Regions from separate parts of the Homo sapiens genome. Here region 1 is linked to region 2. A link means that fine-mapping ties the variant in region 2 to the expression of a gene that starts in the linked region. Tissue or cell type: fibroblasts. Region 2 holds a variant in brackets; the other region holds the start of a gene. All regions are shown on one strand. Distances are between the middles of the regions.

What was found. PIP is the estimated chance that this variant, and not a neighbour inherited with it, causes the effect.
Region 1: it holds the start of UCK1, and the variant in region 2 is fine-mapped to the expression of UCK1 in fibroblasts (GTEx, PIP above 0.99).

Annotation. Positions count from the first base shown.
Region 1 is chr9:131,526,573-131,534,671 of GRCh38, reverse strand. It overlaps UCK1 (uridine-cytidine kinase 1), which reads left to right and starts at 3,409. Exons shown (of 7, transcript NM_031432.5): 1 at 3,409-3,605; 2 at 4,027-4,186; 3 at 5,088-5,184; 4 at 5,402-5,544; 5 at 5,634-5,728. The coding sequence starts at 3,498. RefSeq lists silencers at 3,004-3,173, 3,314-3,673, 3,874-3,923 and enhancers at 3,339-4,252, 4,958-6,157.
Region 2 is chr9:131,471,120-131,479,209 of GRCh38, reverse strand. It overlaps PRRC2B (proline rich coiled-coil 2B), which reads right to left. Exons shown (of 32, transcript NM_013318.4): 15 at 5,486-5,702; 16 at 2,675-4,756; 17 at 1,261-1,466; 18 at 591-736. Among named protein-coding and RNA genes, the nearest start is that of SNORD62A, 10 kb to the left of the region's middle. RefSeq lists a silencer at 554-848. The variant G/A (reference allele first, on the strand shown) is at 3,254.

The DNA.
Region 1 (8,099 bases), 55 kb before region 2:
ACTCCCCCACATGCACAGCCTCCCCGATTTTCAACATCCCGCACCAGAGAGCAGGTAAGAGAATGAATCCAGAGTAGACAGTGGTCACTCTTAGGAGTACTGCCTTGCCTGGCTCTGGGAAACCCAAACTCCGAGGGCTCCAAGCCTCCACCCAACTCTCCACCTACCCCCACCCCCCAATTCAGCAACAACGTTTTTTTGTTTTTTTTTTTTTTTTTGGAGACAGGGTCTCGCTCTGTTACCCAGGCTGTAGCGCAGCGGCGCGATTTCTCTTCAATGCAACCTCTGCCTCCCAAGCTCAAGCAATCCTCCCATCTCAGCCTCCCCAGTAGCTGGGACCACAGGCCTATGCCACCACACTCAGCTAGTTTTTATTTTTTTCTTTTTTTGCAGACAGAAAAAAAAGTGCAGTGGCACGATCTCAGCTCATTGCAACCTCTGCCTCCTGGGTTCAAGTTCTCCTGCCTCAGCCTCCTGAGTAGCTGTGATTACAGGCGCATGCCAACATGCTCGGCTTATTTATTTACTTATTTATTTATTTATTTTTGCCCAGGCTGCAGTGCAGTGGCGTGATCTCGGCTCACTGCAATCTCCGCCTCCCAGGTTCAAGCGATTCTCCTGCCTCAGCCTCCCGAGTAGCTGGGATTACAGGCGCCCGCCACTGTGCTCAGCTAATTTTTTGTATTTTTAGTAGAGACGGGGTTTCACTATGTTGGCCAGGCTAGTCTTGAACTCCTGACCTCGTGAGTCGCCTGCCTCAGCCTCCCAGAGTGCCGGGATTACAGGCGTGAGCCACCGTGCCCGGCCAATTTTTGTATTTTTAGTAGAGATGGAGTTTCACCATGTTGGCCAGGCTGGTCTCGAACTCCTGACCTCAAGTGATCCGCCTGCCTCGGCCTCCCAGAGTGCTGGGATTACAGGCGTGAACCACTGCACCCGGCTGACTCATGCTTCTTTAAGGACACTCTTCGGCTGGGCACAGAGGCTCACACCTGTAATCCCAGCACTTTGGGAGGCTGAGGCAGGTGAATAGGAGTTCGAGACCAGCCTGGGCAACATGGCAAAACCCTGTCTCTATACTAAAAATACAAAAATTAGTCGGGCCTGGTGGCAGGTGCCTGTAGTCCCAGCTACTCGGGGAGGCTGAGGCAGGATAATTGCTTGAACTCGGGAGGCGGAGGTTGCGGTAAGCCAAGATTATGCCACTGCACTCCAGCCTGGGCAACAGAGCAAGATTCCGTCTCAAAACGAACAAAAAAAACCCATAAAAGTCACTCTTCTTCACAATATGGGGAGTTGGGGACCAGCTAGAGGTTTGGGGCTGGCCCTCTGCTTGGTGGTGGTTGGGATGGTCCCATAGGGGAGCCACTGTGGCCCAGAGGCCTGAGCCGTGTGGGCCCGGGCCTTGTTTACTGGACTGTGGGCTTCCTGGGTGCTGGGCCTGCTCCCAGGGAGTGGCTCCTTCCCAAAGCGTCCCTTTGCCTTGGGAGCGGAACCACGCAATAGCCTGACTGGCCCTGGCAGCCCATGCCTTGTGGCCAGTCACCAGAGAGGGCACACGAGACCCAGGCCAGGGGTATCAGGGACAGCCCCTGGTCAGACTCTGCTAGTTTCCCTGCCTTTCGCTACGTGGCTGGACCACAGGGGAAGAAATGGCAAGAAACCGTGTCTAACTCTCCCTTGATACAAATTCAAAGTTGGCTTGGGGGATGGCCACCTTTGGGACACACACCTGGACAGATCTAAGCCAGCAGCGTGGCTGTTTGCTAGGCACTGTTCTGTGCCTGGGGCTTAATTTACAGAGGTACGGCTGAATGACCATGAGGAGAGGCCAAAGCCATCGCAAGATTGATCGCATTTCCTGAGAGAAGGGGCACCCATGCCATGCACGGTTCTCAGTAGAGAACCCCAGGTTTGGTCAGGAGGCAGAAGCAGGGGCGAGGGGAGAGCCCAGGCCTGAGGCTTTCTTGGGGTTTCCATGGAAAAGGCCTGGCAGGGCAGGGAAAGAGTTTAAAATTGGCTAGTTTGAGTAATTCTAGCAGGCTCTGGGCTGCAGAGTGGTCTCTAGTCACCTGATACCTGGCCCTGGGTGACTTAGGGCAGGGAGAATCTTGCCTCCAAAGGCGAGAATTAGATAAGGAGGTAGCTGGGGCTGTAGACTTGGGGTCTTTTTTTTTTTTTTTTTTTTTTTTGAGACAGAGTCTCACTCTTTCCCCCAGGCCGGAGTGCAGTAGCGTGATCTTGGCTCACTGCAAGCTCCACCTCCCGGGTTCACACCATTCTCCTGCCTCAGCCTCCCGAGTAGCTGGGACCACAGGCGCCCGCCACCATGCCCGGCTAATTTTTTGTATTTTTAGTAGAGACGGGGTTTCACCATGTTAGCCAGGATGGTCTCGATCTCCTGACCTCGTGATCCACCCGCCTCGGCCTCCCAAAGTGCTGGGATTACAGGTGTGAGCCACCGCGTCCGCCCGGGGTTGTCTGTTTTGTATATGAAAAGCATGCTCTGCCCCGAGCCTTAGCTATCTCTCTCTCTTTTTTATTTTTGAGACGGAGTCTTGCTCTGTGGCCCAGGCTGGAGTGCAGTGGCACCATCTCGGCTCACTGCAACCTCCACCTCCCGGGTTCAAGCGATTCTCCTGCCTCAGCCTCCCAAGTAGCTGGGATTACAGGCGCCCGCCACCACGCCCAGCTGATTTGTTGCATTTTTAGTAGAGGCGGGGTTTCACCGTGTTCGCCAGGATGGTCTCGATCTCCTGACCTCGTGATCTACCCGCCTCAGCCTCCAAAAGTGTTGGGATTACAGGCGTGAGCCACCGCGCCCGGCTGGAAATCCATAATTTCAATGGATCAGAATTTGCCTGTCACGTTCTCTGTGCCAGGCACGGAGCGGGGGGGCGGCAGGGATGGAACCCGGCACATGGGCCTCTGCCTCCTTGGCGCGCTGTAGGCGCGAGCCTAAAGTCATCAGGCGACAGCCCCCGCCACGTTCCGGGGCGCCCCGACGGCTCCAGCAGCGGGTGGGGTGGGAGGCGTCCGGACAGTCCGGAGGCCTCGATGGCCAAGAGGAGCCTGGGCTGGAGGGGGCCAGGCCCGGGGGCGGCCGGGGGAGGGCCCGGGACTGGCGCAGAGGCAGCGCGAGGCAGAGGCAAGCACTCGGACGAAGGCGCAGCCCCAGCCTCGGGGTGCGGAACGGGCACCTTCCGGGCCACTTGAGTCTGAGACCTTGTAGCCGGCTCGAGGCCCGGGCGCAGCAGTCCCTGCCAGCCAGCTTTCGGCGCAATGGGACGCGGGCGCTCCTGGTGTGCCGGCCTCGGGCCCTGCACCCTCACGCATGCGCGGCCCCCCCCCCCCCGGTGGACTACAACTCCCGGCGTGCCCCGCGCGCCTCCCGGAAGTGATCGCTCCGGTTGCCTCCGACCTCGGCGCTGGGCGGGCGCGCCGGGCCTGGGGAAGGGGCGGGCGCGGGGACCCGATGCGCGGGAGCGGAGGCCGAGATGGCTTCGGCGGGAGGCGAAGACTGCGAGAGCCCCGCGCCGGAGGCCGACCGTCCGCACCAGCGGCCCTTCCTGATAGGGGTGAGCGGCGGCACTGCCAGCGGGAAGGTAAGGGGCCGAGCGGGCCGGGGTCTCGCCTCTCGCCGGTGCCTACGGGCGGCCCGGTCCAGAGAGGAGACCCCAGCCCCGGCCGAGGGGCCCCCTGCCAGGCAGGGGCAGGGCGCGGGAGCGAAGGGGCTGCAGGCCGCGATGGGCCGGGGCGGGCTGGGGCGGGCGAGGGGTTGGGGCGCTGGGCCTCGGGGCTCCCCCACAGCCTCTCCGCCGGCCGGGCTCCTCGGAGCCCCAAGTCCGTGCTAACCCCGTTGGGCCCCCGCGGCCCTTCCGCTGAGACCATCCACACCTGTTGGTGTCCTCCCGCCTTCCGAGCATACCCCCCAGGGGGCGGGTGGGTCAGTGTCTCCAGAAGCCGGCCCCGTGCCTGTCACAGGACGAGCGGTTCCAGGCGGGAATCCCGCTTCTGTGTCTCCAGTCGACCGTGTGTGAGAAGATCATGGAGTTGCTGGGACAGAACGAGGTGGAACAGCGGCAGCGGAAGGTGGTCATCCTGAGCCAGGACAGGTTCTACAAGGTCCTGACGGCAGAGCAGAAGGCCAAGGCCTTGAAAGGACAGTACAATTTTGACCATCCAGGTAAATCGCGAGCCCAACGATGTGGGGAGGGCAGACCCCATTCTGGGCGGCCGCTAACCAGCTGCGCTTGGGCCCAAGGTTGGATGGATGCAGACCCGCTTGGGCTGTTCCCCCAACTCGCCACGCAGCCTGCAGTGGAGTTGGCTGCACAGTGAAGTCAGGGGAACTTTGCTGAGTTCTCTGGGCCCTGAGTGTCCCCCCAGGAGCGTGGTTGGAGCCAGTCAGGAAGCCTGTTGCACTGTGGGGAGCCCTGCCCTGCCCTGCCACAACTGTGATCCTGGAGAAATCCTCCCATCTTCCCTTCCCACGTTGGGGCCTTTAGGGCCCTCCACACACACCTCTGCCCACTGTGCCCTCCCGTGCTTTGGGGCAAAGTCCTCAGAGAGGCCAGTGTGGGAGGCGGTAGGTAAACTAGTGCTGGTGGCTTGAAGCTCCGGGCCAGGTAAACGGGCAGATGCGGCAGGGAGACACCTGCCACTGCTAGAAGATTCCACCCTGGCTGGCTGGCATGGTCAGCCTTTTCCCAAGGACTTGTGGGAAGAAGGCCTGCAAAGCCGCAGTCTAACCAGTTAGTCCCAGAAAGAGAGAGAAGCAGAGGCCCAGCCTACCCACCTCCCAGGAAGAGCTGATCAGAAAACCCCTGTGTTCCGGCATCTCAGGGGCACAGAGCTTGGGCAGTGGCACAGCCCGAGAACAGCAAGGACAGGGTCATCCTGTGGTCTGCAGGGCTGCAGAGGGCACTGTTGCTACCAAACATACACTGCCGTAGTCCTAGTCTACCTGTGCTAGGGTTCTCGGTGTCCCCAGCACCCAGCTGTGCTGACCCCAGAGCAGAGAGGGTTCCCTGCTGTCCGCTGCACGAGGGCATCTGCCTGTCTTGCCTTTGTCTCCAACCCTGCAGATGCCTTTGATAATGATTTGATGCACAGGACTCTGAAGAACATCGTGGAGGGCAAAACGGTGGAGGTGCCGACCTATGATTTTGTGACACACTCAAGGTAAGCAGGTGGTTCTAGGGAGGGCCGAGGAGAGGGGCCAGCTAGGACGTCCCCTCGGGCTCACACAGACCTGCCTGGCGGCAGGCCTCCCCCGGTTGGTTTCTGTGGGTCCCCCACCCCTTCCCACAGTCAGTGTCCCTGCAATGGAAGCTGACTGTGTGTGTGGCCTGGAGACCCTGTGTCTGCAGCAGAGCCCCTTTCCCCGTGCGCCCCTCAGGTTACCAGAGACCACGGTGGTCTACCCTGCGGACGTGGTTCTGTTTGAGGGCATCTTGGTGTTCTACAGCCAGGAGATCCGGGACATGTTCCACCTGCGCCTCTTCGTGGACACCGACTCCGACGTCAGGCTGTCTCGAAGAGGTAAGGCGGCCGCGGGCCTCCGTGCCTGCCTGGCCGAGGCTGGCGGCAGGTCCTGAGGTCTGAAGCACGCCTGCCCCTTGCCGCTGCAGTTCTCCGGGACGTGCGCCGAGGGAGGGACCTGGAGCAGATTCTGACGCAGTACACCACCTTCGTGAAGCCGGCCTTCGAGGAGTTCTGCCTGCCGGTACCTGTGCTCGCTGCTTCAGAGCCCATTTTCCCCTTTCACAAGGACACATGGGACCCAGTACTGTGAGAGGGCTTAGTGCTGGGTGACAGTGATCTGATTGAAAAAAAGGAGAAGAATTTGGCTCATTATGGCCACATACCCTGGGAGTAGTTCTCAGCTGTAAAAACATTCTCTGTGCCTGCTCCTCCCTCTGCCTAAAAAAGCCCCATATCTCCCCCACATTCACACTGGCCGCTTCCTCCCTGCCTCAGGCCCTTGCCCAGCGTCCCCATTCAACACTGAAAACCCTCTGCACCCAGCGCCAGCCTCTCTGCCTGCTTCCTTTTTCCGGGGCACTTACCATCATCTGACACGTCCTGGGTGCTTATTCCCCGCAGAGTGGGGAAGCCCAGGAGCACTTTAGTCTGTTCACTGCCAAGGCCGGGATCTGGCCCTCAGAAGGTGCTTCAGAGCTGCTCCTCCAGGGTCTGTGACCCCAGGCTGCTCTGGGCCAGTGCTCTGAAATCTTGGAGTGAGCGCTGTGCCCAGATCCCAGCTGGCTCGCAGAGAGCAGGAACTCCCCGCTGCACACCCACCTGTCTTTTCTCCATTTCTCCATCTTGTGTTTCTGGCTTGGTGGGACTCGTGGCTCTACTCAAATGGGAGTGTTTTGCACGGGAACATTTTGCCTGTTAAGGTAAAAATACAGCACAAAGGAACTGAAACCAAGATTCCTGCCTTTGATAATGTAGGACAAGTAAGTTCTATCTGCTGCTTTTTTTTTTTTTGAGATAGGGTCTCTTTTTGTCGTCTAGGGTGGAGTGCAATGGCACGATCTCGGCTCACTCCAAACTCCACCTCCCAAGTTTAAGCAATTCTCCTGTCTCACCCTTCCGAGTAGCTGGGATTACAGGCGTACGCCACCACACCCAGCTAATTTTTGTATTTTTAGTGGAGATGGGGTTTTGCCATGTTGGCTGGGCTGGTCTCGAACTCCTGGACTCAAGTGACCCACCCACTTTGGCCTCCCAAAATGCTGGGATTGAGCCACTGTGCCTGGCCTTTTTTTAAATTTTATTTTTAATGAGGCAGAGTCTTGCTCTGTTGCCCAGGCTGGAGTACAGTGGTGCAATCACAGCTCACTGCAGTCTTGACCTCCTAAGCTCAAGCGATCCTTCCACCTCAGCAACCCGAGTAGCTGGGCCCACAGGCGTGCACCACCATGCTCGGTTAATTTTTAAATTTTTTGTAGAGATGGGGTCTCCCTGTGTTGCCCAGGCTGGTCTCCATCTCCTGGGATCTAGTGGTCCTCCCACCTCAGCTTCCCAAAGTGCTGAGATTACAGGTGTGAGCCACTATGCCTGGCCTATTGGCTGCTATATAAAGAAAACTTTTGTTTTTTTTTGCATTCATGCTGTCTGAAATTTCTAAAATATAATTTTAAAAGTAAAGTTAACTTGTTTTAGTCTCTCATTCACAGAAAGATATTTGGCAAAAAGTAGGTGATTCGCAGTAAAACTCTGGATATCAAATCTGCCTCAGCGACCTGAGTAGAGGAAGTGCTGTCACCTGCTATGTTCTGGGCCCAGGCCCCAGAGATGTTTTTGGTTGGTTTGTTTGCTTGCTTGTTTTTTGAGACAGGGTCTCCCTCTGCCACCCAGGCCCAAGTGCAGTGGTGAGATCTTGCTTCACTGCAGCCTCCACCTTCCACTCTCAAGTGATCCTCCCACCTCAGGCTCCTGAGTAGCCAGAGACTACAGGCACGCACCACCACGCCTGGCTAATTTTTCCTTTTTTTTTTTTTTTTGCACAGACGGGGTTTTGCCATGTTGGCTGGGCTGGTCTCAAACTCCTGGCCTCAAGCAGTCCACCCACCTCAGCCTCCCAAAGTGCTGGGATCACCGGCGTGAGCCACCGCACCCGGCCCCAGCCCCACCCAGAGCCGTTCTTGAGCCTCCTTTTCCTTCACCTTCATGTTGAGTGGCTTGTGCAGTCCTCTGCCTGGACCCCGTAGGTATTTCCCAACTGTATTCAGGCCCATCCCTGCTGGCGGTTAAGACCCCTGTCAGCTCTCCCGGACTCCTCCAGCCCGTCAGACTATCAGACTAGAATAGAAAGCAGCCCTCGCCCTTGCGCTCGTGCTTTCATGAGATGGGGTCCCACCAACTGCAGACACAGCTGTCCCCAGGACTTGGTCCCTGTCTGCCTCTTGCAGCTTGTCTCTTCTGCCGCCTTCTTGACCCAAATCCACACGCCAGCAGCACGCACCGTTCCAAGTTCCGTCCTTCGGCCCAGACCCTGCCCTCCCTCTTCCCTCAGCTTTGTCTGATTCAGCCATGTTCTCCAGGCTGCTTCCCCTTCCCTAAAGCCACCCCCCAACCCCCACCAT
Region 2 (8,090 bases):
AGACTGACAAATTCTCCCCAGGATAAGTATCCCAGGTACCAAAAATCACACCACCTGAAAATGCTCCAGAGATGTGTGGAACGCTCGTCTCCCAAAACCTCAAGCAGAACTGCGATGCCAAGCAAAGCACCCCCCAAGAAAGACCTGAAAGGCCAACGGACTGTAATCTGTGTGCAGGTCCAGCCCTGACTCCATTTTAGTATAGCGTTCACGATCCACTTGACTTGAGGGAGACAAATCTCATTCCACTCAGGAATGAGGAGTGGGGAGGAAGGAGAAGCTGGGAGGTGACGGAGGTCTGCATCTTGCCTTGGACAAGTTTCCACTGTTATCACCCTAGAGAAGTCACCCTCTTCAAGACTCGGTTTCTTCCACTGCATAACAGTGATGCCACCACCTATTCCTACATTGATAGAAGGGCCTTGGTAATAGCAGGAACGGGGAGACAATGTGTGCTTGCTAAATACTCCTTTCTTCCTCTCTGCCACCTTGAGCTTGACCGAGAACTCCCTTACCCTCTGGCTCTGGGTTTCCTGGGCATCTGCCAGCCTGCCCTCCAGCCCCATGCCCCCCCACCCTCCGCCCCTCACCTGCACGGCCTGCTCCTTCTTTCTTCTCTCTTCCTCCAGCAGGCGGCGCTGCTTCTTGGTCAGGACTTCGATGAAGCCTTCGCCCACCATAGAACCCACCTCACTCTCCTCCCCGGGGCTGGACCCGCAATTTTCAATGATGGCACCTGAACCAAGATTTCACGAGAAGGAACAGTCTTTCCACTCACCAGGAGACAAGAACAACCCAATTCAACAGGCGCCTGAGATCTAGCATCAGGCTCGACAGAAACCTGGACAGGACTTCCGCACTTTTCTCAGGCCGCCTCTGATCTAACACATTGTTACCCCAAACCAAAGAGGCCCAAGGGCACAACTGAGAGAACACGCAAAGAGCTTAAACCCCAGCTCTGCTCCTACAGCTGTGTGTGACCTCGGACACACCACCGAACGTCTCTGGGCCCCAGGCTTCCTCTCTTTAAAGCCCGGAAGCTGCAGGGTGTCACGGGGATTCAACGGGCTGTGAGCAACACTCGGTGGGAATCCTACCTACTCTGCTCACCTCTACAGCCCCAGAACCCAGCCCAGGGCCTGGCCGAGCTGTTCCGAAAGCTAAGGTACTCAGTGCAAGGGCAAACTCGGGAGGCCCGAGGACTGCATGGCCCCTGGTTCTGCCTGAGTTCTTTCCCCTGAAGATATGAGGATGACTTACTTCCATAGTTCAGGTCAAACTGTTTCATGGCCTCTCCCTGTTCACCTGCCCTCGGAGCAGCCAACTTGGCCTCCTTCTCTGCCTTTTTACTGGAGGCTTCGGGAAGGTCAGCACTGGCATGGGCTGCCCGCTCCAGGGCATAGGGGGAGTGGCCACTCCCACTGCTGCAGCCACTAAGACCTCCAGGCAAGGCCTCGTCTGGGGATCTGTAAGGGAAAGAGGATCTTGTTAACCAGAGCTGGGGAAGGAGGGAAAACACCGCACGTGCACACAGCCTGCACACAAGCCCGGCACCCTGATCTAGGCCCACTTCCTCTAGCTGACTCCTCGGGTGGGGAGGAGCGGCAGGCTGGCCACAGTGCATCCATGTCCGTGTGCAAACATACGTGTAAGGCTGCCCCCACCGGCTCTGCCTGCTCCTGGGGAAAGTGGCTCCCCAGGGCTCTCCCACATGCTATGTTCAGAGTGTAGGGGGGAGAGAGACAAGGGGAATATGCTCAGAATGGAGACGCCAGCATTTCTGCTCCTCTCCAGGACTGCCCTGCCGGAGGGCCCTTGGGGCAGAAAACTGAGGTGAAGCCAAGGGTCAGCCTCTGGCGCCTGGAAAGCTGGATTAGATGCCACCTGAAAGAGTCGGTGTTCCCTGTGGCTCCTTCTCTGGGAGTTTCTCTGCCTTGAATTCTAAGGAGAGTGGAGGTGTGAAGCCATCTTCCTCAGTATGCTGAGGACAGGGAAGGCCTCAGCAGCCCCTGCACCTCCCTGTCCGAGGCACAAGCCAAGTGCAGTCAGTCAACCCAGACTGTGCAGGGGACCCTCTCCTGGTCCCTGAGCAGAGGTCATCACCCGAATGCCTCTGGCTGTGGAAGAGGTGCTCGCCAGACCATGTGCAGCCTGCTCCCCTCTGCGTTTGCTGGGCTCCTGCCATGCTGAGGTGGCAACCCCACCGTGGGGCCACGTCTCCTCACAGTGGAGAAGCAGAACCATCTAGGAAGAGCCACTTCCATGCAGCCACGAGGCCAGCGATGCCCCCTAGGACGCCGCCTGGCAGCAACTCCGGAGCAGAGGACTCTGGTGGACTGACCGGCACCTGGCACTGTGCACAGGCAACGTTCCTCGCTGCAGCGGCCCCTCGGCGGGGCTCCAGGGACACATGACTGGACTCTCAGGTCAGGTGCTGGACAGTGGCCTCAAGAGCACCACTGGGGTGGGGGTGGGGGTGGGAGCTCTAGCCACAATAACACCACCACGAGAAGCAGACAGGCAATGTGGGGGCAGGCAATGGAGACGCGCACAGACGGCCTGGGGGCAGGCCCCCAGCCCCGACACACGGCGGCATCGGCATGCATGCGTGAACTCAGTGCTGCTGAGAACAGAACACAACAACAAAAAGGGCCCAGATGGTGTCTGGTTTTACCTTTTCACTTTCAAAGGCGTCCCATTCTGTTGGCTCTCATAGCGAGGGGAGGTGTCACCACCACCTGGCCTAACGGGCTTCTCCCCAAACCCTCCCGGCTCCAGCTTTCGGCTCTGTCTGTCAACCACGGGTCTCTGACTGGAGAAGCTCCTCTTGGCCAGCTCCTTCTTCTCACCCAAACTAGCCCCCGACAGGCCACCATCCACCTGGGAGTCGGGCTCGGACCCAGGGCCTTCCCGCCGCTCCCGCCGCTCGCTGAAGTCGCTGCTTTCGGAGGCCGTCTCCCACTCCTCATTGGCGTGATCGGAGGAGTTCTGGTAGGAGAGCTCAGGGGACCTGCGGCCCACAGTGCCACTCTTGTCCCCAGAACACAGTTTGGGCCTGCCTGGCCACTGACCTGCCAGCAGGTGGGGCTCCTCCTCGGGTCCCCACAGGCCCAGGGACTCCCGCTCTTGCCGGAGGCGCCGGAATCGAGGGGGCTTATCTTGGCGTGGGGGGCGCCTTCTCCTGAAGGGCCGGTTCTCTGCATTTTCAGAATCTGCCACGTGTTCATCTTGGAAGAAGGATCTCTTGTCCTCC[G/A]CGCGGCTGTCCTCAAAGCCCCGGCCACCAAATGCGTCAGGGTGTCTGTAGGAATCTGGGACATAGTCTCTGTCTGTAGGTCGCCGGGATCCGCATGTGTCGGAAGGGCCATATTCCTGCCAAGAGCTGCCTGGACTTTTGCTCTGCCAGTGGGGTGACTCTTTGGAGACGAAGGTTCTCCGTCCATACCCGCAATTGCTCAGCCGGGGAGGGAGGGCTCGCCCAAAGGCCCGAGGGCCTCGGCTCTTGGCATCTAGACCGCTGTGGTCCTCAGAGCACCCCTTGTTGGACCGCCAAGAATCTCTGCAGTCGCCCTTCTTCAAGGTGCTCTCCTCCCTCTCCAGGAGCGAGCCTTCATTCCCGTTCTCGGAGCCCCTCTGCCGGCGGCGCTTGGGAAGTTCTTCATACTCTGAGCCCTCGCTATGGGTCTCACTGGCAACTCTCCGTCGGGGCTTGGCTCTGGGGCAGTCCTCTGGCCGCGCAAACTCTCGCAGGCCCCGGCCACGGCCGCTGCGCTGACTGCTGCAGTAGATGCTGCGGGCCCCCAGGACCCCCCCACCACAGAGGCCGCTCCCATTTCCGCCAGCAGGCCGACCACGAAAAGTGAACTCTCTGAAACCACGGCCCCGGCCCCGGGCCTGTCCTCTGACCCCAAAGGCTTGCTCCTCATCAATAAAGATCCAGTTATTTCTCTTCATGGGGGGAACATCGCTGGACTCTCGTGGGGGTCTGGCTTCCCAGGCCTTGTCAGGTTTCTCCTCCTCTTCAAATTTGGTGGCCTCGCGGCCAAAAGTGGCATGGCCAGGGCCTTTGTCCTCCAAAGTGGTGGTGGAGGAGTTGGCCAGAGAGGCATCGTTCTCTTCGTCCTCATCCTTTTCTGCCGTGGGGCTCTGCTCCTTCTCCTTGGCCAGCCGGGTACTCTCCTCCCCTAGCTCCTGCTTAATCTTCTCAAGCTCCTTCTCCTTGTCTTCCACCTTGAGGGCTTTCAGGACTGGTTTCTTGATGGGTCCCGACCTCCGGGTCCTGCCCGTCTGCTCCGGGTGCTGGCTGCTGGAGCTCCGGGGCTCGGGAGTCCATTCAGGCTCCGAGGATGGCTGTTTGTTGGGGCTCCCGTTCTTGTCCCAGGAGGAGATGTTAAAGGCCGTCCCCTCCCGGGGTGTCTCCCGCTCAACACCATGGGCTGTGTCAGCGGTCTCTGGCTGGTGGCTAACATCCCAACTGCCACACTCTGGCTTTTTCTCATCTGGGACAAAGTCAGGCTCCAATGGGGAACACCTGAGGTTTTGGGTGTGACCCCCAGGAGCACCTGCATCCTGAACATTTTCTTGGGGTGGAAACAAAAGCTCCTGGCCTATTCTTTGAGAAGAGATACAGCTGTCAAAGTCTGCTTGGGCCTTCTTGTCAAAAGCACTCAAGTACTCCTCCCCTCTCTCCTCAAAGAGATCGCGCTGAGCACTTACGCCCCCTGCCCTTCCGAGTGAGGCAGAGAAAGAGCTTTCATTCCTGAAAAGGAACCAGAAAAATCAGTCAATGCGATTGGAGCCTGGTTCCTGGTTTCCATGCTGAACACAGAGCTTAGTTTTAAAAAGAAAAAACAAAAACAAAAACTAAAACACTTTTTAAAAAGAAAGCTAGAAAAACAAAACAAAAAACAACAACCAAAAAAAAACATAAGCATCAACATTTGTTCTATCTTTAAACACGTCTCAGAAATGCCAGGCCATGAATTGGTCGGTGGCCCCTGGAGTCCTTGAGAGTGAAGACTGTCGTGGCCGCAGGCTGGGTACGGTGTGCCCCCTGGAGACAGAGGAGCCAGGCAATCCTCCGGGTCAAAGAGCAAGAGCAAGCTGGAGCCTGGGAGGCCGTGAAGAGTCTGGGGCTATGGGGGTGGCAGGGCTAACTCTGTTTACTTCCACAGAAATGAGCCAAGACCCATGCTCTGGACCCCACCTGCCTTGTGAAGCCCCCACCCGCCTGCCCTGTGCCCAGGATTTGAGGACCCCGGGACTTCTCCTTCACCTTACGTCTCACCATCTGAAAAGAGCCTCTTGGACAAAGCATTCAAGCAATCCTCCTCACACTCTCCTTCCCCAGAGGAACCAGGAGTCCCTTCAAGGAGCACGTCTCCCGTGGGCAGTGTCTCCTAGGATGGTAGCTCATCCCAGGGCCCTCTCAATTAGGACCTGGAGTCCTCCTTCAGTGGCAAGGCAGCAGGACCAGGCTTCATCTCACCTGACACGCATGTCCATAGCCAAGGTGTCACTCGACTTCGGGTGCGGGAGCGGGTAGCCCTTGCTCTGCAGTGCCATGTAGCCCTCTGGGCTCCACACAGGGGGTGAGTCGATGGGGGTCACTTTTCTTTCTTGGAGTGGGGGCACACAGTTCTGATCCTCAGAGCGACAGCCTGTCCCATTGAGGGACTCCTGGGGCATCATGGGCTTCATCAGTCCTGAAGAAGGCAAAGACTGATCTACATCATCTCATTTAGAAAGCCCTGCTCCAATCTCAGGGTCAACCAAAGGCCCAAAGAAGTTAACAGTTACCCTGACTTTCATGTGGATACAGCACCCCACCCACCTACACATCATAGGGCTCTTAATCTTTCCTGACCTGAGGACCTCTGAAGGCACACACACATGCACCCTGCCTGGTTCAAAGACCTGTCCAAGGAAGGGGGCAAGAAAAGCACATTTGTCAGATATAGGCTTGGTCCTTAACACTCAGGACAGGGGATGAAGCCTTTCTATACAGGGCAGGGAGATACAACTGAGACATTGTTTAAAACAAAGACCCAAAAGGGCCACATCCTCAAAAGGCACATTAGATAGACACATGCGCTTTACTACCAGGAACAGACTGGCGGGTCTGTCTGGCCTGGACCAGGGCAGGGAAACAATTGTCCCCCTCCCAGGAATTCAGACTCACATGCTTACTTTCATGGAGGTTTAAGGGACAAAGACTTCAGATTTCTACCTCCCCAAATGCTTTGCTAAGTTGAAGGTGCATGTTAGAATTTTCACGTAACCACTAACATATAGAAATGAAATGTAGAAGCAAAAGAAAAACAATAGGACCAAGAAAAGGCAGGAATTAGAAGAAAAGGCACAGAAAGAGAAGAATAAGAATGGAATGCATGAAATATCATAGTTGGAATATCTAAATATAATAATCCCAATAAGGCTGGGCATGGTGGCTCATGCCTGTAACCCCAGCACTTTGGGAGGCCAAGGCAGGTAGACCACTTGAGGTCAGGAGTTCGAGACCAGCCTGACCAACATAGTGAAACCCCGTCTCTACTAAAAATACAAAAAAATCAGCCAGGCATGGTGGCAGGTGCCTGTAATCTCAGCTACTCAGGAGGCTGAGGCAGGAGAATCGCTTGAACCCGGGAGGTGGAGGTTGCAGTAGGCCGAGATCACACCACTGCACTCCAGCCTGGGTGACAGAGCAAGACTCTGTCTCAAAAAAAAAAAAAAAAAAAAAAATTAGCTGGGCGTGGTGGTGGGCGCCTGTAATCCCAGCTACTTGGGAGGCTGAGGCAGAAGAATCGCTTGAACCCGGGAGGCGGAGGTTGCAGTGAGTTGAAATTGCACCACTGCACTCCAACCTGCATGACAGAGCAAGACTCTGTCTCAAATAATAATAATAATAATCATCATCCCAATAAATCTAAAAGGACCAACTTTTGCAATTAAAAGTCATAGACTTTCAGAGTGGTAAAGCTATACACATCTTGTAGATACAAAGATACACTCCCAAAACATAAGGGCTCAAAGAGGCTAACAGTAAAAATTGGAACAAAAGACTTCAAATACTTATCAACAGAAAACTATAATTATTATATTGCTATCAAAGTAGGCAATAAAGATAGAAAGCACTATTAATGACAACAAAGGTACTACATAAGGATAAAAGGAACAAGATACAGAAATTCTAAACCTGTATGCCTCCAGATAGACAAAGCAAAAACTGACAGGCTCCCAAAGAAGATTTGACAAATCCATCATCATAGTGGGACATTTTAAAACACCTTTTAGTAACTGGTCAAAGGGATAAAAACTTGCAATGATGAAGACATTTGCACAACACAATTAGCATGCTCAACTTAATGGACTATCTCCAACCAGAGAATACAGTCTTTTCAGGCAAATGTAGAATGTTAAAAAAGAATTGCCATGGAAGAGGCTACAGAGAAAACCCAACAAATGTCAAGCAACCTAAGTCAGGAGTTGGTCAGCAAACTACAGCCATTAAACAAAACTCAGCCTGCTGCCAGTTTTTACAAGTAACGTTTTATGGAAAAACAACCATGTTCACTCAATTACTATTGTTTATGGCTGTTTTTGTCCTACAACACCAAAACTGACTAGCTGATCAAGGCCTAAAAGACTTACTATCTGGTCATTAGTAGAAGTTTGCTGACCCCTGGTCTGTATCACACAGACCATATTATCTGACCACAGAGCAACTACATTAGAAATTAGTACTGCAAAGAGAATCTTAAAAGCCAAAAATTAATAAACTAAGTATATGATAATATTTTAAAGGAAATAAGAAAAGAAAAAGCAGGCATTATTAAAATAAAACCCAAATAAGTTAGAGGAATGAAGAAGCCCAAATACTGATTTTAAAAAGGCACTAGACAAACCTTGGGAAAGACTAATCAAAGAAAAAAGAGACAGCACAAAGAACATTAAGAATGAGAAGAAGGACAAAACGACATAGCAGAAATCTAAAATTAATTAAAGCAATTTATGATACACGATCTTCATGACTTTCCCAACAAATCTTTATGACAGAACTATTATTGTACCTACACTTTGCAAGTGACTACTTT